Regions from separate parts of the Homo sapiens genome. Here regions 2, 3, 4 and 5 are each linked to region 1. The links come from fine-mapping of genetic effects on gene expression. A gene starts in region 1. Each other region holds a variant in brackets. All regions are shown on one strand. Distances are between the middles of the regions.

The links. PIP is the estimated chance that this variant, and not a neighbour inherited with it, causes the effect.
Region 2: its variant is the best candidate, but not a certain one, in a credible set for the expression of PNPLA8 in monocytes after R848 (Quach 2016, PIP 0.55).
Region 3: its variant is the best candidate, but not a certain one, in a credible set for the expression of PNPLA8 in whole blood (INTERVAL, PIP 0.69).
Region 4: its variant is the best candidate, but not a certain one, in a credible set for the expression of PNPLA8 in monocytes (Quach 2016, PIP 0.76).
Region 5: its variant is the best candidate, but not a certain one, in a credible set for the expression of PNPLA8 in monocytes after interferon gamma (Fairfax 2014, PIP 0.70).

Annotation. Positions count from the first base shown.
Region 1 is chr7:108,523,905-108,529,084 of GRCh38, forward strand. It overlaps PNPLA8 (patatin like domain 8, phospholipase A2), which reads right to left and starts at 2,231. Exons shown (of 11, transcript NM_001256007.3): 1 at 2,125-2,231. It overlaps LOC124901722 (a long non-coding RNA gene), which reads left to right and starts at 2,571. Exons shown (of 2, transcript XR_007060473.1): 1 at 2,571-3,741. RefSeq lists enhancers at 153-688, 1,368-2,328, 2,100-2,219, 2,510-2,849.
Region 2 is chr7:108,546,750-108,551,929 of GRCh38, forward strand. It overlaps a transcript of THAP5 not described here. Among named protein-coding and RNA genes, the nearest start is that of THAP5, 20 kb to the right of the region's middle. The variant C/T (reference allele first, on the strand shown) is at 2,572.
Region 3 is chr7:108,500,464-108,505,463 of GRCh38, forward strand. It overlaps PNPLA8 (patatin like domain 8, phospholipase A2), which reads right to left. Exons shown (of 11, transcript NM_001256007.3): 5 at 2,028-2,179. Among named protein-coding and RNA genes, the nearest start is that of PNPLA8, 23 kb to the right of the region's middle. The variant C/T (reference allele first, on the strand shown) is at 2,920.
Region 4 is chr7:108,564,184-108,569,183 of GRCh38, forward strand. THAP5 (THAP domain containing 5) reads right to left here. Exons shown (of 3, transcript NM_001130475.3): 2 at 1,647-1,839; 3 at 1-922. The coding sequence ends at 8. Among named protein-coding and RNA genes, the nearest start is that of THAP5, 3.0 kb to the right of the region's middle. The variant C/T (reference allele first, on the strand shown) is at 2,510.
Region 5 is chr7:108,412,617-108,417,796 of GRCh38, forward strand. The region is part of intron 1 of NRCAM (neuronal cell adhesion molecule); the gene reads right to left. Among named protein-coding and RNA genes, the nearest start is that of NRCAM, 41 kb to the right of the region's middle. The variant C/G (reference allele first, on the strand shown) is at 3,176.

The DNA.
Region 1 (5,180 bases):
GAATGGGGTAAAGAGAGGGAAGTGTTAAGAGAGCTCTAAGGTTTTAAATCTGAAAAATACGGAGAGTGCCATTTGCGAATATGAGAAAACTGTGAAGGGGACAATTTAATAGGAGAGAAAAACACATTTTCTTTTGGATTCACAGGATGAAGTAACAGTGGGACATTCAAATGGAAATGTACACAGACTGTGGATTTACTTGTGGAATTACCAGCATAGTGGCAGCAGAAACCACAACATTAGACGTATTTACCAGATGATAGTTTACAGTAATAATACATGACTATTTTGGGATCAGGCAACCTGAGTAAAGCTTTTCTTCCTTGAAAAATGTGTATTTGCAATACAAACTATATTTTCCATAATATTTCAGGATATTCACATGCCCACTGAAGTATATTTGGGTTTCAAACACGAAACTCTGGTTTAGGGAGAGCGACAGGGGTAGAGCCTTGAGTGCCACCCAGAGCTAGGAAGAGGAAGAAAAGACTCTAAAGGAAACAAAACAGGAGAAAAGCCACCCTGAAAAAATCAGGACACTGAAAACCAAGACAGGACCAAATTTTTTCAAGTAATGGATAATGAACAGAATAAAATACTTGAGTACTGCAGAGAAAGATAAGAACTAAGAAATGACTGGCCAGGTGCGGTGGCTCAGGCCTGAAATCCCAGCACTTTGGGAGGCCGAGGCGGGCGGATCACCTGAGGCCAGGAGTTTGAGAGCAGCCTGGCCAACATGGGGAAACCCGTCTCTACTTAAAAAAATTAGCCGGGTGTGGTTGCGCACGCCTGTAAATCCCAGCTACTCGGGAGGCTGAAGCAAGAGAATCGTTTGAACCTTGCAGTGAGTCGAGATCGCACCAAGGCACTCCAGCCTGGGCGACAGAGAGAGACTCCCAACAACAACAAAAAATGGCAGGACAGGAAGGTGTCTATGGCTCAGCATTCTAACTCTGACCTTTTTACAAATATATATTCCATGAGTGAAGCAATATGCAGCTTCAGCACAACCCCTCTAACTGGGGTAAAAAAAAACAACTCAAAGTACAGGCTGTTCTTGTAACAACTTTGCATGTGAAACAAGTGAATAGCTAAACTAGTGAAACTGGCCCTTTCATTCAACATCACTCATTAAAAGGGCGTTTACAAGATTTTAATTTAGTCCTGATATAGAAATAAAAAAAGAGATCAACATTAAGAAAAAGTTGATTATAATTACGAAATAAAAACATGTTCTTATATTGAAAGGACAACTAATTTGCATAAGCAATTTAACAAAATAGCTAAAATGGGCTTGATACAACTGCCTCACAAGGCATAAGCTCTTAATGTTTCACTGTTTAACAGCATTTTCTTAATACACTGAAACATTTGTCATTTTTGAACTCTCAGAAATTAGGACTGCAGAACCAGGATACAACTGTTTTGGAATTGAAAACAGTATTTTAAGCAGGATTATATGATAGTCCCTTATGTCACAACTCTCCTGAGTTTTTCCTATGAGTCACCATTTTAAAGTTATCATTGTATTAGGCGTGGAAAGCAGGTTCCTTCCAGCACAATGATAGAAATGACACAGGGATAGGAAGCACTGCAACACAGTGATTCATACACCTTATCCACTTAAGCAACAGCGGTCAAGGATAGAATCAAATGTGGATGGGGTCAGAAAGAGATTACTGACAAAAAATATCAGGCAGTAGAATCACCAGGTGCACACTGACAGTCGAGAATGATGTAGACTAGGGAAACCCTCCTGAGAGTGACCAGTTAACTACTGGAGAACACTACAGTCCAGGGGAAGGCAGACAGACTCTGGAAAATTGAGGAGGGAGTCGTGGGGATGGGACAGGGGGAGCAGGGCGGGACCTGCGAAACCAAATACGGTTTGCGCTTCTGGGGCAGCAAAGCCCACGGGGGCGGAGGGCGCCGAGTACCAATGAGCTCCAGGACCTGCGGGCTCCTTCCAGCGCCAGCTCCTCCCCAAAGCCTGGCGTGTCCCCACCCTCTCGCTCGGGAAGTGCCCTCCAAAGAAAGAAAGGACGACCCGGAGCGCCGGACAAGGGTCCAGAACGATCAACCAGCCTCCTATCGTCCCGCCCCTGTCCCCTCGCGGCTACTTACCGGGATGCAGGCCGCAGTCACTAGGGCTGCAGCGGCGACTCGCTCGTTCCCGGCAATGACGTCCACTCCAACCGGCCTGCATCAGCTGAGCTTCCAACACAAACACTGGCGCAGCAGCTAGGTCGCCACCCACTCAGCCCCGCCCCGCTCCGCCCCCAGCGGAAGTGACGCGCTAGAAGTTTGGGTCTACCCGCGGGCCGGGGTGAGGATTTTCCGCCTCGCTCAGGCCTCTGCCTCCTTGTCAATCTCCGTTCCTCCCCCGCCCCGAGATATGCGCAATAGAGCATGACGGAGCGCAAGGCGGGAAGCCGCGACAGACGTGTGTGCGTGCGTGCGTGCGTGCGTGATGCGCGAGGCGTGGCTTGCTGGTGGGGCGTGCTGTGCCTTGGTTGGTTGCCGGGTGTGAGAGCGGTGGGACTTCGTTTTGCCTTCCTGGGCGGGACCTCGGAGCAGTGTCCTGGTTTGCTTGTTTGCGGGCCGCTATTCCCTTTCAGCAGAGATAAGCCTCCCTCTCCGCGTCCCTGAAGCCCCTGCCTGCGCTGAGTTCCTTGGAGCTGGGGGCTGCGATACCAGTCTCTTGGAGGGTGGTGCCCGGCGCGGCCGCGCCCCTTTCTCTATATCCATTCCTGGGCATGGCCACCCAGACTAAATGTCACTCAAAAGCGAGTTGACATATATTACTGTATTGGAAGTTAGCATAAACCGCCCCACAAATGGTCCCACACGTAACACATCTTTTTAAAATTGTGGCATTTCATACGTACCACAGGGGCAAACTACAGCCCTCAGGGCAAATCCAGCCCACCGCAGGTTCTGCTGTACTAGGAGCTAAAAATGGGTTTCACATTTTTCAAAGGTTAAAAAAAAAGTTTTGCGACAGATGACAATTATATGACATTCATATTTGTGTCTGCTTTTTAAAGTTTCATTAGAACATAGCTTTGCATTCCTATACATGCTGTTAATTAAAGCTTTTATACTACAATAGCGAATTTGGGTAGTTGCAATAGCCCCTTACCCTCTTGAAGTGACCTTGCAATTACGTTGAGGTCGGGAAAACAGATCAGTTTCAACTAGTTATCAACCTCAAAATGTTATCAAGACTTATACTGTACTCTCAAGGCTTACCCACTACCCATGGGTATGTATGCTTTAGCCCCCTGTAAGGTTATTGTAAAGTCCTTAAGGAAGGGGATTCTTTGACCTGTCAAATGTAGTGGATGTTACCCTGATAGTTGTGTTGTTTTGATTTTTTTAAATCAAGGAGGGAAAGCCAGCTTGCTATGTTCTTGGGACACAGTGTCTGGATTATGTACATCATAATGCCTGGTAAACCCCAGCAGTGGATAAGCCAGACATGTTATTTAGCTACAGGAGAGTTAAAAGATGTATGCACCAATTAAGCCTTACAGGCGTGTGGAAGGAGCTTTAGTTTTTGAGACAGATTCCTCCTTGTTGCTAAAGAAAAATTATTCTGACACTTGTTAAAATGTCAAGGAAGACATTTAGAACTATTGCAATAGGTGCCATGACTATCACCATGGGGGAGAGAGATTGGCCTCAAGTTTTAATACAACAAAAACAGCTAGGATTTATAACCAGCAAGCAGACTGAGGGGTCAGTTCATGGAAAATTACTAAGAAGTGATATCAAGGGTCGGGGATATTCTTGTTAAAGTGACTTACAAGATTCTTGCTGAAGACAGGCGGAGATGATCAATTATCAAGGCTAGGAGATACTCTCTAAACTGACTTTGCAAGATTCTTGCTAAAACTGGACTCAGCAGGCCTAAGACAGGGGCCCAAGGATGAGGCCTAGTTGGGAAGAGGGCTCAGAGGAGCCTAACTAAAGTATGGTCAAGGAGAGAGCACCACCATTCCCTCTCCGCTTATGCTCTTTCATCCCCTAATTTAGTCAGATGTTATTAAATATCCAGATTTTCCTCCCATGTCAGAAATTTTCAAATAACGCCCAATTCCTGCTTCTCCATTCTTATCCTTCCTCTCCCTCCCTTGTCTACCACCATACCTTTAATCAGTCATGAAGTCTGATGAGTTTTACCGCAGAATTTCTTGAATCGTTCCTCTGCTCCACATTCGCATTTCCACTGCTCTAGTTCAGGCTTTCATCCTTGCTCTTCAGTTTCATCTAAACTGGTTTTCCAGCCTGTAACTAACCTCTGACCCAGTCAGTCTCTTCTGTGCAACCACGGTAATCTTTTGAAAGTGCAAGTCCAATCGTGTTTTCCCGAATTAAAAAGCTTTTGCTGGCTGTACATCTTCACAGAATATACCGAATGAAATTATAGGTTCTGACCCTGCTGACCTTCCAGCCTTTACTTTCACCACTTGCCTCTCACTCTCTATCCTCCAGCCACACCTGTACTTCCCCAGATACTCTTGTTCCTTTTCATACTTAGTGCCTTGGTCATGCTGTTGGCTTAGCTCCCCTTCCACCTTGTCCTCCTAAAGATTTGTTTGTCCTTCAGCCAGGAAAATCTTACCTCACTACTCATAGAATGAATCATTCCTTCCACCTGTGCTCACTTCTCTTATTGCCCTTGCTGCACAGTATTATAATTTATTTGTTTATATGCCTGCCAGTTTCCTGCAGTCAAGGAGCGTAAGGTAAACTGTATTGTCTGGATCTAGCGTAACATCCAACAAATAGTAGACTCTCTAAAATTCTGTATTATTGAATTGATTTTTAGTTTCATTTAGATTACTAGTTTGATAAGTTAAAAATGGAAAATAAAACCCATTTATGATTCTTTTGATGTTGGGCAGTTTTGAGACAAAAGAGAATTATATTTAATTTCAAACAAATTCAGTAGTATGCAAAATTGGAGATTATCTTGTGTATAATAGCAGACTAATGCCTTCAGGAAATCATCTATACTTGAAATAATGCTAAATACAGTAATTGTTCAACGCTATATTCTTTGGAAGCTGGGTAAAAGAGACATCACATTGCCCTGTATCAGTTACTTGCTATGCTCATTCTATTTATAAGGTTTATTATTGATTTATCTATTTTAGCTCTTCTACATCCATAGT
Region 2 (5,180 bases), 23 kb after region 1:
GTTGTCTATTTTTTATTAAAAAGCTTTGTTTACAGTACTCTTCAGAAATACATTACTGTGATGATACCTAGTAATGTGCTTCTACCTCCTCACTAAATTATATTACCAATGCAAACCAGATGTTTCAGTCTCGCTTGCATTGGTAATAAAATAAATCGGAGCTGGATCCCAGCTCTATGCCCCTCCTATATTAAGGAACATTGTTTTCCCTTTGTGTTTTATCATTTCCCAAATTAAGGAAACTATCCAGGTGGACTGGAAGTTGATATGCTGAAGGGTGTTTCAAAGCACCAAGTTTTAACAAGGCAAAACAAATGCTTCTTGAGCATATTATTTAATGTTCCAAAAAAGGAATAGACATTTCTTATTTAATGACATTCTGGGAATTGTTTGAACAATTTGTATAGTGTCCGTCATCTGTCACTCTCTACTCCCTCAAAAATTCTTTCTCATCTTTTAATACCACACTGATGAACGGATTAACTTATTTTTCATCCGTGGTTCAGGTACATTCTAGTCTCATGCCAGTGAATTCATTTTCATTTAGACTAACCAAGGTAGCAAGCTCAATGAAATTAACCTCATTTCACATTTATAATATTCTAGTTCATTGTGCATATTTAAACACCACACATCTTTATTAATGGAAAACATGAACCATGCACTGAATAAAACTAAAGATTAGGTTCTCTCTGAAATTAGCTCCTACTCCATTGCTTCTCATTTTGAATTATATTTCTGTAACCAAAAGCAAGACTTGAACTTACATATTATTTTCCAGCGATCCAAAAGAATACTTACTTAATCCCTAAATTTATTTTCTGATATTCTATATAGTAATTTGAACATTAAAAGTTATTTTCCCTAAAATTATGAGGCAGTATTCGTCTAAGATTTGTAAGAATTCTGTGTACAGTTTATCAAGCCTGCTTTTAGATATGGGACACTTTTTCTTTTAGTCCTAGTTCTATTCCTGATTAATTAAAATCACATAGTTGAGCTGTTGTTTGTGTATTAACCTGTCTAGAATAATCGATTTTCCATTTCTATGTTTCAGGGTTTTTAGATGATAAAATACGTAAAGAGCTTTTGTTTCTCTAAAGAATGGCACAAGGTAAGATGTAAGCTATTATTGCCCTGAGCAGTGGTGTTTAAATTTTGAGGGGTAATTTATCCCTTTCTTAATCTTAATAGAAATTGTGAAAAATGCCTATGCACATGAAATTTTGCATTAAATTTTAGAGGATCCAATGAGCCTCCTAAAAGCCTCCCATGGTCCAGTCCCCAACCCTGGAGGGAATGCTACTGCACCTTTTCTAGGTACTGGTTATAACATGCCAGGAGAGATTTAAAGTAGCATTATTTACACTACAATTCAAGTTAATAATTTAACAGGACCTGCCTGAATAATGGGACAATAATATACTCATGGAGCTGCAAATTGGTTAATTTATATGCTGACTGTCTCAATGTGGAGCCAGAATTAGACCCAGCAAAACAGCTCTTGAAATATGGCTTAGTAGGTGCTATTGTTCACCTGAAAAATATTTATGGAGCTCTGACTTTGTACTAGGAATTGTGCTAGACAATGAAGCTAAAAAGCTCATAAAAAGCTTATACTTTGGGGATAAAAAAACAAGTAAAGAAGCAATAATGACACTGGATGATAGAAATGATAATAGGATTAAGTAAAAGGAGCTAACAGACTAAATATGAAGGTTATCTGGAAGGGCAAATGAAGGCTTTCTAGATAAAATAACGAATAGGTCAGCCCTTGTATTAGTCTGTTCTCATGCTGCTAGTACAGACATAATCCAAGACTGGCTAATTTATAAAGGAAAGAGGTTTAATTGACTCACAGTTCCACATGGCTGGGGAGGCCTCACAATCATGACTGAAGGCAAATGAGGAGCAAAGTCATGTCTTACAAGGCAGCAGGCAAGAGAGCTTGTGTAGGGGAACTCCCCTTTATAAAGCCATCAGATCTCATGAGACTTATTCACTATCATGAGAACAGCGCAGAAAAGACCTCCCCCATGATTCAATTACCTCCCACTGGTCCCACCCAGGACACATGGGAATTATGGGAGCTACAATTTAAGATGAGATTTGGGTGGGGACACAGCCAAACCATATCAGTCCTGAAGGATGAATAGGAGTGAGCCCATAGCTCTTACACATATTCTTAAAAACCCAGTGTTCTACAAGCCTTATTGCAAACAAAACAAAACAAAAGCCTGCAGTCCTAGTTCATTTTCTGCTCTCCAGAGTCAACCGCTTCTAATCATATTGCAGATTCTTTGTGTATTTACCTATATTTCTCAAAATAACATGCTTAATACACACACACACACACACACACACACACACACACACACAAGTACTTTTTTTTTTTTTGAGTCTCGCTTTGTCACCAGGCTGGAGTGCCGTGACAGGATCTCAGCTCACTACAACTTCCACCTCCCGGGTTCAAGTGATTTTCCTGCCTCAGCCTCCTGAGTAGCTGGGACTACAGGTGCACACCACCACGCCCAGCTAATTTTTGTATTTTTAGTAGAGACGGGGTTTCAC[C/T]GTATTGGCCAGTATGGTCTCGATCTCTTGACCTCATGATCCGCCCGCCTCGGCCTCCCAAAGTGCTGGGATTACAGGCGTGAGCCACTGCATCTGACCTATATTTTTAAAGTTTTGGATTTAGGCACTGTCTTTTTGACACTCCACTATGGTAGATGAGGATTTGCTCTGTTTAATTACCTTGTCATTCTACCCCTTGCTTCTGACCCAACCACAAACATGAGCATACACACACACCCTTCTATGTTACCTTCTATCTTCCCAATATACATTGTGTAAGTGGTTATATTGTATTTACATTATTTTGACCATGTAAATGCAGTTATGTATGAAGAAATGACAGTTTGATCTTCCATGCACATTTCATGTCAATATTAGTCTGGATTCTTTGCATAGTTTTCTCTGTGCTTTATCATTAATTTAACCCTAAATTCTACCCCAGATGAGTGAGTTTCCTCTCCAGATATTCAACACATTAGTTAATCTAATGATTTCCATCTTTGAAGAACTTTATGTTTCATTTGAAGAACTCGATGTTTCTGAGCCTCCAGACCTATTGTTGTCATTTGGACTGGTGGCTCTCTAGTAACGTTGTATTGGGGCCCTTCCTTCACCACCAGCTTGGAATTCCTTTTGCTTCTTTCTTGATTTGAATTTCCTTTTTTCCTATTTTCATCTCTAGATCAATTGAATAATAAACTATCATCTAGGCAATCATTCCAGAAGATAAACAGTTTTTTTATTTTCTTTTATGGCCTTATTTCCCTAGAATACATTTTCCAACAGCTTCCTTAGAAAGGGTCCAGAGGAGGCAATTTTTTGAGACCTTGGATATACAGAATCAATTCTATGTTTTTCCTTCAGAATTTTCAGATTATTAATCTTTCTTTTTACTTTTTGCTTCCAGTGTAGCTAAGAAGTTTGGAGCTACTCTATTCTTGACCCTTTGTGTCTTTTTTTCTTCTTGCTGAAGGTCTGTAAAATCTTCTGTTTATATTTATAGCTCTGACTTTAAAAAATAATGTGCCTTGGTAAGTACCTGTTTTTGCCCATTGTTCTCAGGACATAATGGGTCATTCCATCTGGAAATACATGTTCAGGTCCAGAAAAGTTACTTGCATTATTTCTGTTACTATTTTCTTTGCTCCATTTTTTTTTCTATTACAATTCTCTAAAATGCCCATTATGTGGATATTGAGTCTCCTGGATCTATTGGATTTCTAGGACTAATGTAACAAAATAGGACAGCCTGTGTGGCTTAAACAACAGAAATTTATTTTCACAGTTCTGAGATCAAGGTATCAGTAAGTTTGGTTTCTCCTAAGGTCTCTCTCCCTGTATTACAGATGGCTACTTTCTTCTGTGTCCTCACATGGTCTTTCTAGGATGCCCTTGCATCCCTCATGTCTCTTTGTATGTCCGAATTTTCTCTTCTAATAAGGACCTAAGTTGGATAGCAATAAGGCTCACCCTAATGGCCTCATTTTAACCTAATCTCTTTAAAGGCCCTGTCTCCAAATACAGTCACGTCCTGAGGTACTGGGCTTTACGGCTTCAACACATGAATTTTCAGGGGACACAATTCTTATTTGGGTCTCTTCCTTTCTATCTTTTGGCTTTTTTTGTTCTACTTTTTGGGAGATTCCTTCAACTTTAATCTTCTAACTCTCCTATTAACTTTTCATTTATAACATTTTAAATTACTAGAGCTCTTTACGTTTTTATAATATTCCTTTTCTAAAAGGTATCATGTTTTTGTTTTCAGAAATGCAATATAGCCTTTGCTCAGAAAGAACATGAACTATAGTTGGGTTCTTTCCCCTATGTTTTCTTATGACTACATAATCTGTTTTCGCTAAGTTGCTGTTTTTTACTTATTTATTTGGGCCATGCTATGGTCTGAATGTGTCTCCCAAAATGCATGTGTTGGAAACTTCATGCCCAGTGCAACAGTGTTGGGAGGTGGGGCTTTTTGGAAGGTGCTTAGGTCATGAGAGCTCTGCCATCATGAATGAATGAATGTCACTATATAAGGGGCTTGCAAGAATGTGTTCCCTCTCTTTCACTCTTCTGCCATATGAGGACACAATGTTCATCCTCTCTCACTCTTCTTCCATATAAGGATGTGGCAAGAAGGCCCTCATCAAATGCTGGCGCCTTAATTTTGGACTTTTCAGCCTTCAGAGAAATGTTTTTCTTTGTAAATTACCCAGCGTCAGGCATTCTGTTATAGCAGTAGAAAATAGACTAAGACGTCCACATCTTTATTATTAACTGCTCTTCTCAATTGTCTGTTGACTATCAGTGGACAGAACATTTAAAAGCTGGTGAAAAACTCTGTACCTATGGATGAGTCTTGCCCTGAGTTTCACTGTACAGCAATGATTCTCAACTTTTGCTGTTCATTAGAATCACCTGGAAAACATTAAAAAATATAGATGCTCAGGCTTTAAACCAGACCAATTGAATGAGATTCTCTGAGAGTGGAGCCCAGGCCAGGAAAAGTTTCTAAAACTTCCCACGTGATTTTAATGCACAGTGAGTGTTGAGAATCACTGTTGCAGAGTGGCTTAGCTGGACCCAGTTGGAGTCCCCTACCCGATGTTAAA
Region 3 (5,000 bases), 24 kb before region 1:
GATATAATCTTATATTAAATATGTTCAAGAAAGAACTGTCTTTCCTCAACACCAATCTGTTGAGATTCCCTGCAGTTTTGTCCCAGTCACACACAGGTTTACTGTTAGAGTGATCTTGACCTATGTCTACCATATCCTGTCTCCGAGTTTCTTAAAAGTTACTGATATTGGCATGGTGGCTCACACCTGTAATCCCAGCACTTTGGGAGGCCAAGGCGGGTGGATCACCTGAGGTCAGGAGCTTGAGACCAGCCTTGCCAACATGGTGAAACCCCGTCTCTACTAAAAATACAAAAGTAGCTGGGTGTGGTAGTGCATGCCTATAATCCCAGCTACTTGGGGAGGCTACAGCAGGAGAACTGATCAGTTGAACCTGGGAGGTGGAGGTTGCAGTGAGCCGAGATCACGTCACTGCACTCCAGCCCGGACAACCAGAGCAAAACTCCGTCTCAAAAAAAAAAAAGTTACTGGTACATTTTTCCTTCCTCCTGCCTTCCACTGCCACCATCTGAGGTTAGCTTCCTTCTCTCAGTACTTATTCCTTCCTTCATATTGATGTCAAAGTATAAAGGACTCGGGTGAATACAGAACCAAGGAATTTAACAAAAAGATACAGGGTAGTACTTGAACATACAGAAGAGTGGTTGGCAAGTTGGTTATACCAAAAAGCAAAATCAGAGAGGTAAGCTAAACCTAAGAACAATAGGCAGGGCATGTACTATGAATTACAAGGTAACAGTAGAGATGGCAGGGAACTAGAGAACAAGCTAGAAGATTTTGGGGAAAAGGTTTGAAAAACCAAGCCAAAAAATCTAACCAACAAGTTGGAAGGAACTAGATAAACAAAGACTGAGTAGGAAGCATGGATGGATTGCCAGTAGTAAAAATAGAGCTTAATAGTGAAATTATCTCCTTCTGAACAAAGAAAGAATTTATTTCTTATATGGCACCAGAACTGGCATCTCCAAGTGAAGACATCAGAAGTCAGGAAGTTAATATAGCCTCATTTTGTAACCATCACTTTATCAAGTAACTAGTTGATATATATGGGTAAGATAAGTGTAATAAAAGAAAGCTGGCTGGGCGCGGTGGCTCACGCCTGTAATCACAGCACTTTGGGAGGCCAAGGCAGGTGGTTTACCTGAGGTCAGGAGTTCAAGACCAGCCTAGACAACATGGTGAAATCCCGTCTCTACTTACAACACAAAAAATTAGCCAGGCATGGTGGTGGACACCTATAATCCCAGCTGCTTCGGAGACTGAGACAGGAGAATCGCTTGAACTTGGGAGGCAGAGGTTGCAGTGATCTGAGATCGCACCACTGCACTCCAGCCTGGGCGACAGAGCAAGACTCTGTCTCCAAAAAAATAAAATAATAAATGAAAGCTAAAATTATAAAACACTGTCAAGGTTTTATGAGAATAATGGTTGATAAGCTTCTGAACTACCAAAAAGGTCTAAAAAGGCCAAATATAAAAATATAAATACTAAAATCAAATCAAATCAAATACAAAAATATAAATACCAAATCAAACCAAAGAACTGAAGTATATGTCAGAGTAGCACTTAGATTAATAAAGTATTAATTAAAACAATTTCATGTTTTATTTTAAAAATTTGATTTTATTTATATCAAATCTTTTTTTTTTTAATTCCTAAAGCTGAATTGAATCTGTAGTTTTTAAGAATCATGTTCCAGCTGGGCGCAGTGGCTCGCGCCTGTAATCCTAGCACTTTGGGAGGCCAAGGCAGGCAGATCACCTGGCGTCAGGAGTTTGAGACCAACCTGGCCAATATGGTGAAACCCTGTCTCCACTAAAACTACAAAAATTAGCCGGGTATGGTGGCGGGAGCCTGTAAATCCAGCTACTTGAGAGGGTGAGGCAGGAGAATCGCTTGAACCTGGGAGGCAGAGGTTGCAGTGAGCTGAGATTGTGCCACTGCACTCCAGCCTGGGCAACAGAGGGAAACTCCATCTCAAAAAAAAAAAAAAAAAAAAAAAAAAAGAATCATGTTCCTAGCCTTACCTTGTTCCTCCACCATCAATTGAGAGAATTCGGATTCCTCTCCCTTTCACTGGATCCACATAGCCAATTAGGGCCAAAATTTCTCTAACTGCAGCCTGAAGAGTTTCATCCTTAATTTGTCTCAGTCGTAATAAATATGGAATAATTCTTTCCTATATTGAGAGAAAAGATACTTTGTTGCTTTTGTCAAATCAAGACTGAAAATGTATGATTATTATTAACCAATACATGCAGTTCACCACATGACAACCAAGGTGACAGTGTTCATTACTTTCTCAGTAATCTTATAAGACAGATTAGTTTTTGATATATTAATGTCAATTTTCTAGATTACATTTGTTCTAATATTGAGGACAAAAATTAACCAATATTCAAAAGTTTTCATTAAAAGATGTAATACTTAACTAGAGAAAATATAATTTATAGAAATTTACAAATTATTATAACAAAAGGTTAACATTATAAATTTTGTATAATATTTAGTCCAAATCCTGAGATTAAGAGGCTAAAACTGATTCACAGTAACTACTAGAAGTTAAACTGTTATTAAAAAGAAATAATGAACCATCTTGTATACATTGCATATGGGATTCAAGGTTGCCTCATAAAAGAATACAAACAAATGTTAACAAAGGTAACTGAGGTGAGAAGGTAAAAGCAGGCCACTACAATTAAATAATCAGTTTAAATAAACCTGAGACTTCAAGATTCTAAGCACTCAACATCATATTGTTGATCACAGACAAGAGCTTAAATCCTAGAGTTCTATGTTGCTTACCAAAGATTCTCTAGCTTCTGTACACAGAAGCATCTTACATAGTCAGTACCGCAGGTTTAATGGAATGGCTGAGTGGCAGCTATAATTCTGCTGTGCAACCTTCTGTAAATCAAA[C/T]AATTTTCCTAGGTATCACTCATTTTGTTTCTTTTTTATGATCAATCAACCTGAAATACTCTAAATTCTTTCTCAATATTTTTTCCCCTAATATTGAGCTGTGAGGCCCCACTAGAGGAACTTGAGCAATGGTGGAGAATAATGCAAATTTCCATTTCCGGTTAAGATGAAATACTCTGTTACAGATCAACGCTCACATCAACAACAAGAAAATCTTGATGAAATACAAGAAAAGTACCATCTGTTTAAAGGCATCAGACAGAGAGCTGCTGAAGCAACAAGAACAGATGGAGCCAAGAATCTGGAGAAGGAGTAATTGCTAGGAAGTGAGCTGGTAAACTATAGCTTTTCTTCCCTTGAGGCATTTGCTGATTCCAGGAAAAAGTAAAGGACCAAAAAAGTGAGTCTGACTCAGACAGAGGGCCCCAAATAAAGGACAGAGAAACCAGCTGATCGTTTAGCATCTAAGGGGTTTGGAGTGAAAAAAATGGAAGACCTGAAGGGCTTCAAACACATGGTTGGCTTTACCTCAAGACATTTGCTGAATTCTAAAATCATGAGGTGTGGAAGGCAAAAGGTAAGCCGAAGACCTCTGAAAATCAGAGTGGAAGGCTTTGTATTCTTGAGATTTTAGGACCCAATGAGATGGTGGTTAAGTGAACACACCCTGGAAGAATATGCCCAAAAATCAGGGCAAACTAGAGGTCTTACCCAAACTGTAATACAGCCTTGATCCAGATTTGACCCTAACTGAATTAAGGCTATCAGGGCTCCACTCAAATGCCAAACAGAAGAACAAATAAACCCCAGAAAAAGATATAATTTGATATAATCTAGAGCTTATGCAATTTTTTAAACTTACAATGTCCAGCATCCAGAAAAACTATAACGTATGTGAATCCAGTACCGAATTACAAAAACCAAGAATTGATGTTCATATTAGAATTACCACAAAAACATGTTGAAATAAAAATAACAAAATAAAATTATCAAAATATATCAGATACCTATGAATTAGTTAAATAAAATCATTCCAATGGAAGATGTAAAAGACACCCAACACTGAAAATTTTTAAAACACAGGAGGAAAATAAAGATGACCCGAATAATTGAAAAAATATGCCATATGTCATGGCTTGGAAACTCAACAAAGACCCAATTCACCCTAAATTGTTCCACATATTCACTGCAATCCCACCATGTTTTTCTCTTTTAAAAATTTTTTTGTAGATAAGGTGATTCTAAAATTCATATAGAAATATAACATGTCAAGAATAGCCATGCCAACAACATTGAGAAGAACAAGGTTGGAGGATTTATACTACCTAGGTTTATACAGCTGCAAAAATTGAGCCAGTGCACTATCAGCACAACCACACACAAATATACCAGTGGAACAAAATACTGTGTCTGGCTGGGCATGGTGACTCACGCCTGTAATCCCAGCACTTTGGGAAGCCGAGGTGGGTGGATCACCTGAGGTTGGGAGTTCGAGACCAGCCTGACCAACATGGGGAAACCCCATCTCTACTAAAAATACAAAACTAGCTGGGCATGGTGGTGCATGCCTGTAATCCCAGCTACTAGGGAGGCTGAGGCAGGAGAATCATTTTAACCTGGGAGGCAGAGGTTGTGGTGAGCCAAGATTGCACATTGCACTCCAGCCTGGGCAACAAGAGCGAAACTCCATCTCAAAAAATACATAAATGAAAAATACTGTGTCTAGAAACAGATCCATATATACATCTCATTTATGATAAAGGTCTTTTCAATAAATGGTGCTGAGTCAACTGGATAAGTGTATTTTTTAAAAGTCAGGACTTCTGACACACACCACACAACCAAATCTATTCTAGATGAATACTAGATAGAAGAGTAAAAGGCAAAGCAAGGTTTCAGAAGAAAACACAAGAAAATTTATATATATATATATATATATATATATATATATATATATATATATATATATATTTTTTTTTTTTTTTTTTTTTTTTTTTTTGAGACGGAGTCTCACTCTGTTGCCAGGCTGGAGTGCAGCGGCGTGATCTCAGCTCACCGCAACCTCCGCCTCCCAGGTTCAA
Region 4 (5,000 bases), 40 kb after region 1:
AGTTATTCTATATCATAGTGACTTCATATGTTGTAAAATGGTTTTCTATAATCTTGACGTTTTCTTCAGATAGCCAGTTTTCCTGCTTTAGCTGCCTTATAAGAGCTTCCAAAGACTTCAATCTACCTAGAGTTTGTTGCTCTTTTAACTCTAGAAGAGTTATCTTTGAATGTAGCTTAGAGACTTTCTGCCAAAGATGTTCCTTATTTATATCTTGTCTGCAGTAAGAATGTTCGATTTGTAAAACTTCTGTCCCATAGTCTACATCCTTATACAAGGAGTCTTCAATGTCTGTGTCTTCCATTTCCGTGGTTTCTTTTTGTGCAGATATAAAAGAATTAACTGAGGGTTTAGAATTTTCAGCAGGTACAAAAATGGCAATAACAGATTCTTTATTTGTGTTTAATTCTTCAACTGTTTGATTAATTGTGCTGAATAAGAATGGATTTTCCTGTGCTGACTTTATTTCCATGGAATTACTTGTAAAGTTTGGATTAGCAAGATGACTGGTAGTTACTTCAAGAACTTCTTGAGTTTCCAAAGATTGATGAATACTTTCTGAATTTGAAGTTGTCAAAGTAATAGTTGTAGAATTTAGATTCTCAAAACATGTGTGAAAACCACCTCTACCTGTATCTTGGTTAACTGATGTTTCCAAGGTAGATTCTGGTTTCCCAGTATGTTGTTTAACTAGATTAAGAGTTAACATGTTATTTTGTATACTTCCTGTTTTGGGAGCTGGTGGCTTTACCAAGGAAGATGAATGAAGTAATTCTGGATGTTGATGGGGCACATCTGTGTTAACTATATTTTTCTTTGTCTCATTTAATACAAATGATTCTTCTGACTTGGCTTTTGGGCATACTTCTTTCTCATCTTCCAAGTTTTTCTTCTGGGATTTTTTTTTAGAAGGGTCTTTTCCCTAGAAAATAATATTTTCATGTTCTGAAAAAGATGACTTTTATTGGCTTATTATGCTAGTGCTATTTAATTATAATATTGAGTAGTACACTGGCCAAGCAAATTTATTTAGTTAAAAAAAAGCTCAGAGTATATATACCTTAAAGTATTTTCTAAAAAGCATTAATCCCATTCAATATACGGCAGAAACATTTCAGATCATTCAAAAGACTAGTATATTGGGAGGCCAAGGCAGGCAGATCAACTGAGGTCAGGAGTTCAAGACCAGCCTGGCTAACATGGTGAAACCCCCATCCCTACTAAAAATACAAAAATTAGCCGGGCGTGGTGGCAGGCGCCTGTAATCCCAGCTACTCAGGAGGCTGAGGCAAGAGAATGGCTTGAACCCAGGAGGCAGAGGTTGCAGTGAGCTGAGATCGCACCACTGCACTCTAGCCAGGGTGACAGAATGAGACCTTGTCTCAAACAAAAAAAGTATAAAAAATAAAACTCATGAACTTGTGTTAATAACTTAATAATGTATATCTCTTGCTTCTCTTAAGCTGTGCTTCATGAGTTTAATTTTTTTTAATTATCACTTTTAGTAAAAGCACAAATTAGTGCTCCCTTTTTTCCAAGTATCTGTTTACCCAAGTTATAGTTCCCTCTTACTCTCCCACCTGATCACCTGCCACCCTGAAATCTGCCACTCTGCTCAGCATTACCCCTCTCCCATACTGCAATACCTGATTGTCTTCAGGCAAAGAAAATATTGTTGGAACTGCAGTTTGTTTTAAATATCGAATACCCCATCTGATGTCAAGAGAGTCAGGAGTAAAATGGTCACTACATAGAAACTGGTATTTACTGGGAACCCATGAATCTCGCTTCATATTCTTTAACCACTTTTCCAGTCTTTCTTTGTCATGTAGAGGAAATCTGGAATTTAAAAAAAAAAGAAGAAAAAAGGAAAAACTTTGCTATATTTTTACAATTTTGCCAAATTCCCACCCTATATATCTGGGTAACCTATGCATCAAGTAAGTACTACAAGAGGAAGGCAACCATCCCTACCAAATAAGAGCATCTTCATGACAACTAGTACCATTATCATCTCTGCAGTAAGAGGCCTAAGATGTAAGACATGTAGCCAAGGCTCTTATCTGATAAGAGCTGAACATAATTCAGAGTCCCTTCAAGTAAAATATATGTGTTCCTATAAAGGACAAAATCTATTTGTATTTTCTATGGATTATGTTCCATTTTTATATTGCTGTACAGTTTGCCTAGAACTAGAAAAAAGGTTTGTATAAATTATAAATTCCTATTCAAATGTATTTCATAATACCACCACATGTCAAATGGCTTGTTGTCTATAATTCAAGGCAGTATTAAGCTTTACAATCTTATTTAATATTTAAAAAATAAGATGTTATTTCAAACAAATGATTTAGCTGAAAAAGTACTGAAAATATTCTCTTTACTAGCATCATCTTTAATTCTATCTATAAGTAATCTAGTCTAATAGTACTACACTTCTATAACCAATGAACTGGGAACTCCAAATTTCAAGTTCTGAAGGAGAAACTGATAGAAGAAAAGAATGGAA[C/T]ATGTTAAAAGGGACAGTCTCAGATATTTTATATGAAACAAATCAAATACAAATGGCAAGACAGCGCTGTATACATTTTGTTCCTGTACCTGACAATAACCTGGATTTAAAGTTGGTGCTAACATTACAGTGTATGGCAGAATTTGATAGAAAATTTTTCCTATCAATCTAAAAAGGTTTGGGTCAAGGTATACAAAACAATATTTGAAAATGGTTTATATTCCATTTGGTACTTTTCCAAGAACAGAGTCCAAGACACCACATAATTTCCTGTTTTTAAAAATAGTAACAATATAAGGTTTCTCATATAAAATGTAGCTGTTATACACTCCCTTCCCGCAATCCCAATCATTTAGCTTATGTTTTGTAGTAGCATCATTTTTTCCCCCTAAATTCTGGTAACTTTTTAAGATGCCATGGAAAGTCTGGGTACTCTGTAAGATATAACTTTTAATCCTGATATCCTCATACGGAAAAAAATCAGATAAACTACCTTTGGAAATTCCAACCACAGAAGCAATATTAATCATGTTTTAAAAATATTTTAACTTTACAAATATTAGGTTGTAAGTATGACAAGCATAACCAGAAAAGGAATTTTAAAGGCAGACAAATTTTCTTTTAGAGGACCTGACTTCTTCTGGCCATTGGTAAATTCATTTCTTTTGTTACAACTGAAATGAGAATAGGCCTTTTACAATAATGCTTTTTACTGTAAATTCATGTATATGGATGCTGTTTGCAAATTATTTCCATTGTACCTATATGCTAAGTTATCAACTCATTAAAAAAAACTTTGTGAATATCCTTATTGTTTACTGGATTGTATTGCTTCAATAGGTAAATCTCTAAGAAATCTTGATCATGTTTCCTGAATAAATTATGTCTTTATATTGGTTCAATTCATTTGATAATTTTGTTTCATTGTCTTATGTAATTCCCCAAAAGGCATAAGATAATCACAGTACAAACTGGACACTATATTAACTGAATTCCCAAATTCATATACATTTAAACTACAGTTTGCTGTAGTGTTAACATGAGCAAATTCAATTCAAGTTTGACGCTACTGGAGAATAAAACTAATTCAATTTTTATTTTGTGGATTACACAAGAAAATTTTTTAAAAACCCTAGAAATAATACAACTTTTACTAAATTCACATTTTCAGTGAAAAAAATCTTTACAATTCACTTGCATTATTTTTTCCTTCCTAAAAAGTTACTGTAAGGTCCACAAAGTTTAGTTAAAAATTTCAGTGTGGGGTTATACCCCATCTCCAATATCAAAGGCCAAATAAATCTGGGAAATACGGGGTTAAATCAAGTTCAACATGATCTTTTGCTACAAACATTCTCAGAGATAGAGCCATTAGTACAGTAGTATTTCCCTATAAACTGAAAGTGGATTAGATTGTTTTCCTCCCCCAAACATCTCTTTGCATCTTGAGGCTGGGCTTCAAGGGAGACAATCCTGGAAATATTGCCATGGATTGTGAATTACTTGGGGTTATCAGTTTTTTTTTCTTTTGAGACGGAGTTTCGCTCTTGTTGCTCAGGCTGTGGTGCAATGGTGTGATCTCGGCTCACCTCAACCTCCACCTCCCAGGTTCAAGCGATTCACCTGCCTCAGCCTCCCGAGCAGCTGAGATCACAGGCATGCGCCGCCACGCGCAGCTAATTTTGTATTTTTAGTACAGACGGGGTTTCTCCATGTTGGTCAGGCTGGTCTCAGACTGCCGACCTCAGGTGATCTGCCCGCCTCAGCCTCCCAAAGTGCTGGGATTACAGGCGTGAGCCACCGCGCCTGGTGGGGTTATCAATTTTTTTTCCATTAATTAAAATACTGGAAAGCAGCCGAATCATTAATGAATAAGTCCTTCAGGTCTAAAGTAAAATGAGCACAAAACAACTGCTGAAAATCTGAACCAGGTTAGATCTAAATGAATTGTTTTTAAATACAAGAAAAAATGGAAATGCAGTATTTTAAATATGTTGCTTTTCATGTGTTATTAATCATGTGAGTACTATTAACATCTCCATGTTACAGATGAGATATGTGAGACACCAAAGCTTAAATACTTTCCAAGAGGTCATTAAGCTACAGAATAGTGGAACCAGGATCTAGCATTGAAGCCTGGACCCCTAATTATTATACGACACTGCTTGTCTGTACTTCTGAATAAAAATCAGTGCTTCAGTAGTTTGATGGAAATATATCGTGGCTCTAGTAATTCAGAGTAACAGAATAAAACCTTGTTCTCCGCAGAGTATCTACAGCCCTAAGCAGAAGACTAGTTTATAATTCTGGCTCTGACACTAAACTTTCAAGGTCGGTTACCTAATCATTCCGGGCCTCAGTTTCCTCAGGAGAAAAGTGGGATGAAATTATACCTATGCGACCTACCTCGCGGGGGGTGTAAATTAACTTTGCGTGCACCTTTCCACTTCGCAGGTTTCACGTATCTTAAATGGTGGTTAATGTTGTTCAA
Region 5 (5,180 bases), 110 kb before region 1:
ATCATGTTTTATAACAGATCTCTTGAATTTATTCCTCCTAACTTGTTTTGTATCCTTTGACCAACATCTCCCAAACCTCCCTCCGTTCCCACCACCCCAGCCCCTGGTAACCACCATTCTACTCTCTACTTCTATGAAATCAGCTTTTTAAAGATTCTACATGAAAGTAAGATCATGTGGTATTTGTCTTTCTGTGCCTGGCTTATTTCACTAAACATAATGTCCTCCAGGTTCATCCATGTTGTCGTGAATGACAGGATCTTATTCTTTTTATGGCTATATAGTATTCTATTGTATATATAGACTGCATTTTCTTTATCCATTCATCCATAGATAAACACTTCGGTTGATCCATGTCTTGGCTATTGTGAATAGTGCTGCTATGAACACAGGAGTTCAGATACTGATTTCATTTTTTTTGGACATATGCCCAGTTGGATTGTTGGATCATATGGTAGTTCTATTTTTAATTTTCTGAGGAGCCACAATACTACTTTCCATAATTGCTGTACTACTTTACATTCTCACCAACAGTGAACAAGTGTTCTCTTTTCTCCACATCCTTGCCAATACTTCCTACCTTTCATCTTTTTGATAATAGTCATTCTAACAGGTGTGAGGTGATATCTCACTGTGGTTTTAATTTACATTTCCCTGATGATTAGTATGTTGAGCACTTTTTCATATATCTGTTGCCCATTTGTATGTCTTCTTCTGAAAAATGTCTATTCAGGTGCTTTGCCCATTTTTTTATTTGGGCTGTCTTCTTGTTATTGAGTTGTTTCAGTTCCTTATATATTTTGGATATTAACCATTTATCAAATGTATGGTTTGCCAATATTTTCTCCCATTCCAAATAACCCTTTCCTCTTTATAAATCCTTACCACTATAGCCTTTGAAAGACAACTCAAAACTCACCTCCTCCAGGAAGCCCTCCTTGATTAATTACCTTGATCTCACACATTTTTATTCTTCCTTTACTCTGATCCTTCAACACTTACATATTTAGTCTAAATTGGCTTTTAGGTTTCCCTTTGTATCTCCCAATAAGTACAGTAAGACAGGAATATAGGGGGCAATTAACCAACAGACATCAATAAATATTTATCAAACATTTATTATATTTAGTTATCCAGCCAATAGAAATTCATTTGGTGCTGTATTGAGTCCAATTTTTCTGCTTTCCCAGGTTTGCCTGCCCCTCTCCACACTGTTCCTCTGGCTGCTTGCTCAGTGTAAAGTCCCTGCCACAGCCACCATCTTCTCTCCCAACACCATCAGCTGTCTCAGCCTCTCTGTAGCTGATGGCTCTGACTCAGCCTCTGTCATGTCCACACTGCAGCAGGAGCTACACCCCTGCACCCTCATCCTGTGTAGCTGCTATTATAGAGACTCTGGCTTCTTGAACCACTTCTACATTCCAACGAAGCACCCTGCTGTGGGGTATAGGATCTGGCTTTCCCAGAGGCTGATCAGAGGGTCATGGTAACATAATCTGAAAACAGGAACTTAAAACTTAATGCGGAAACCTTGACCAGTAAGAGACAGGAGACAAGAAGGAGCTAAAAGATCAATTCCTTGCCATTCCTTCTTGTGACAGACTGTTGCAAAGTACAGTGTGATCCCAAAGACCTGTCTGCAAGACAGTGTGTGTCACAGAGCAACCAGCTGTATTTCCTTGAGAAGCTTTGGACAGCTTGGCAAAGCACTGTTAGGTATTATTTGTCTGGCTTCCCCCGTTCCCTCACTATTTTTGTCCTGGAATTCCATCTCCTCATAAAACCTTCTCAAGTGAGCTCAGATTCTGTTTTCTAGGGAACCCAGGCTAAGACAATTATCTACATAAACTCTCCACTCTACATTAGACTAGCCCTGAGAAAGGGTACAAAAGAGGCATAAAAGAAGTGAATCCTGTCCACAACAACCTCACAATCTAACTGGGGAGGCCAGACTCTACCTATGTAACAATAAGTGAAAAAGACAAAGGAATGAATGAATGTAATTAGAGGGCAAATTGTTCAGTGTTTTAGAAAATGGGAGCCATTTGATACCACTCAGTGTACAGGGCCCAGAATAAAACAAAAAGTATTCACAGAGAAGAGGAAAACCATCAGATCTCACCCACGGCAGACTGCTAGGAAGAGGGGCTTAAAAAAACGCTGGGAAGACAGAGAAGGGGGGAAGACTGCAGGGAGTGTGTTCCCTGGAGAAGAGTCACCTTGGTGAAGCCAGCACAACCACAACAGTGGGCGTGGTAAGGAGAAGCAGGGAGAGCCTGAAGGACATTGGGTTTCCCTGAACAGAGGGGCTTGCTGGGGAGCAGCAGGGTGAGTCCAGGGTTCATAGCAGAGGGCTGTGGAGGCAAGACAGAGGGGTTTGGAGGTGAAGGGCATTTGCTACTCCTCATATTACCACAGAAGAGATGAAAAAGAAAAAAAATACTCCATTTCTTAGGAGGTTGCAGTATAATATTCCCAGCTTCTCCCACACCCTCCATCACACCTGTGAGCCAACAGCACAAGGAATCTGGGGGAAGAAACAAGGTCTTCTTGGCCCTGAGCCTTCTGGTTTCCCTTTCATATCTGCCATCTGACAACAGGGGTACCTTTCCTTGGCAGGCCTGCCTGTGTGAGCAACAGCCTGCGGTGGGACCTTGAGGGTGACAATGTCTAATGGAGAAGGAGGTACCTGGAAGCCCTGTGGCCGCACGTCTAATCACTTCCCCAGTCAGCCTGAACTATAATCAAGCTGGCACTTCTCCTTCAATCTGGTTTTTGTGTCGTCTTTCTCAAATGGTGCAAACTTGGGAGGGAGGACAGGAACATTATTTAATGACTTCCTAAAACATCAAAAGGGGGCTTAGATCTGATGCAATGAGAAATGGGCATGGCAGGAAAGAAGCATGATAAAAAGAGATAATAAATGCTTCTTGATTAAATGGTTGGCCTACATCCTAATTTCTACCCATAAAAAGGAGAAGAAGGCCGGGCGCAGTGGCTCATGCCTGTATCCCAGCACTTTGGGAGGCCAAGGTGGGTGGATCATCTGAGGTCAGGAGTTTGAGACCAGCCTGGCCAACATGGCAAAACCCTGCCTCTACTAAAAATACAAAAAATTAGCCGGGCATGGTGGCAGGCACCTGTAATCCCAGCTACTTGGGAGGCTGAGGCAGGA[C/G]AGTCACTAGAACACAGGAGATGGAGGTTGCAGTGAGCTGATATCACGCCATTGCGCTCCAGCCTGGGCAGCAAGAGCAAAACTCCCTCTCAAAAAACAAACAAAAAAACAAAACCAAAAAGGAGATGAGAGGGCTCCGTGGTTTCCACATGGTTGCTCTTATGTAGTTATTTTTACCCTCCAGTGTTTTTCACAGTGGCCCTCTCTGGCTTTATTTCTGTCATGAAGTTCCCTTTTCCTCTGAGAGATGCTGCAAACATTTCAGAAACATTTCACTTGCTTCTTCCAGTCCAGAAGAGTGATTCTTCCATGACAGAACGGGCCAGCTGCTGATGTGAGCCCATCCCTCCAGATCAGCATGACTAAGATATTCATCTTCATGGAGCAAGAATAACTACAGGAGATTTGAATGCTGCATTTGCTTTAAATAAAACTGCAGATGCAATTCCAGGAGTAGGATAGAGACAGCAGAAAAACAGCACATTTCTTTTATAGTATCATAGTGTCTATTTTAATCAGCATATTACAGATGTTTTGAGACATTCTAGCAAAATTGACATGGTTGACAACGCTAGACAGAACTGCCTCACGGGGGAAAAGAGGAAAAGATTAAACCACAGGCGTGTGGCAAAGGAACCTGCTTTGTCAGAACTATGCTTTGTCATCACCGCTGAGATCAGAGAGCTGTTTCTATGGCAGCAGGCAACATGTTCTGGCCAGGAGACAATCATGTAGGGATTTTTAATTTCATTTGATGTCTAATTGCCTACTACTTCGGGAAAGAGACAAATAATTAAAAAAAAAAAGTCTTCCTTAACTAGACAGACTAATACCCCCAAGGAAAAACTTGGGTTTTTATAGTATGCTTTTCAAGATTTGAATTTCATGTCTGTATAGTTGAAGGCATGGGACCTTCTCCAACAAGGCAGAATGAAACCAGTAAAAAGGAAAGGAAACTCAGATGAAATTTCCATCACTGCAGAGCAGTTCACACATCCTGTTAATTACTATTGCCATTCATAATTAAGGGAGGTTCCTCATGGATCTTACTAACCCTTCTATCAAACAGCACCTACTCTTGCAAACCATTGGAAGAGGTTGTGCTATTTATGACAGGTCCCTCCCATTTCAGATCCATGCTGTTCATTTCCCTGAGCAATTAACGGACATTACAAACACATATTCTCCAGAGAGATTCCTAGTTTGGGAACATCACTTTTCAGATGTTGCTACTGTTGTCACTGACCATTTATTTCAATGTTTTCCATCTTCCCTTAAAGAGTAAGTGATTGAATGTCTCATGATTCTCTGCTTTTGCAACATAACACGCTTCCCTCCATTTGATCAAATAATACTGGTGCTTCTAAGGATCCTTTAAGCTAATAGCCAACAGTAGCCTATTTTAATTGCTATGGAGATGTCTTAGTTTGTTTGAAGCTGTTATAACAGAAAACCTGAGACTGGGTAACTTATAAGGACAGAAATTTATTGGCTCACAATTCTGGAGTCTGAGAAGTCCAGTATCAAGGTGCAGACATCTGGTGACGACCTTGTAGTTGCGTCATCCCATGGCAAAAGGCAGAAGGACAAGAGAGAGCAAGAGAGACACAGGGAAGGGGGCCAAACTCATCCTTTTATAATAACAACAATCCTACCTATAAGGGTGGAGCCCTCATGGCCTAATCATCTCTCAACAGTCCCACCTCTTCATACTGTTACAAAGGCAATTAAATTTCAACGCGAATTTTGGAGGGGACAAACATCCTAACCCTAGCGAAAGAAAACAAATAATTTTCTGGTAACTGAGGTAAATATTCCAGCAATTTGATTGGGAGTTCATGTCATAATGAGCTATAATTTTTTCTTTTTAATTCAGATGTCCAGAACTCAACTTCTAAATCTCTGGACACTAGGCAGATGGCTCTTTCTTTTCTTTTCTTTTCTCTGCTCTTCTCTTTCTTTCTTTTTCACTCTCTTTCTTTTTTCTTTTGCAAGTTACAGAGGT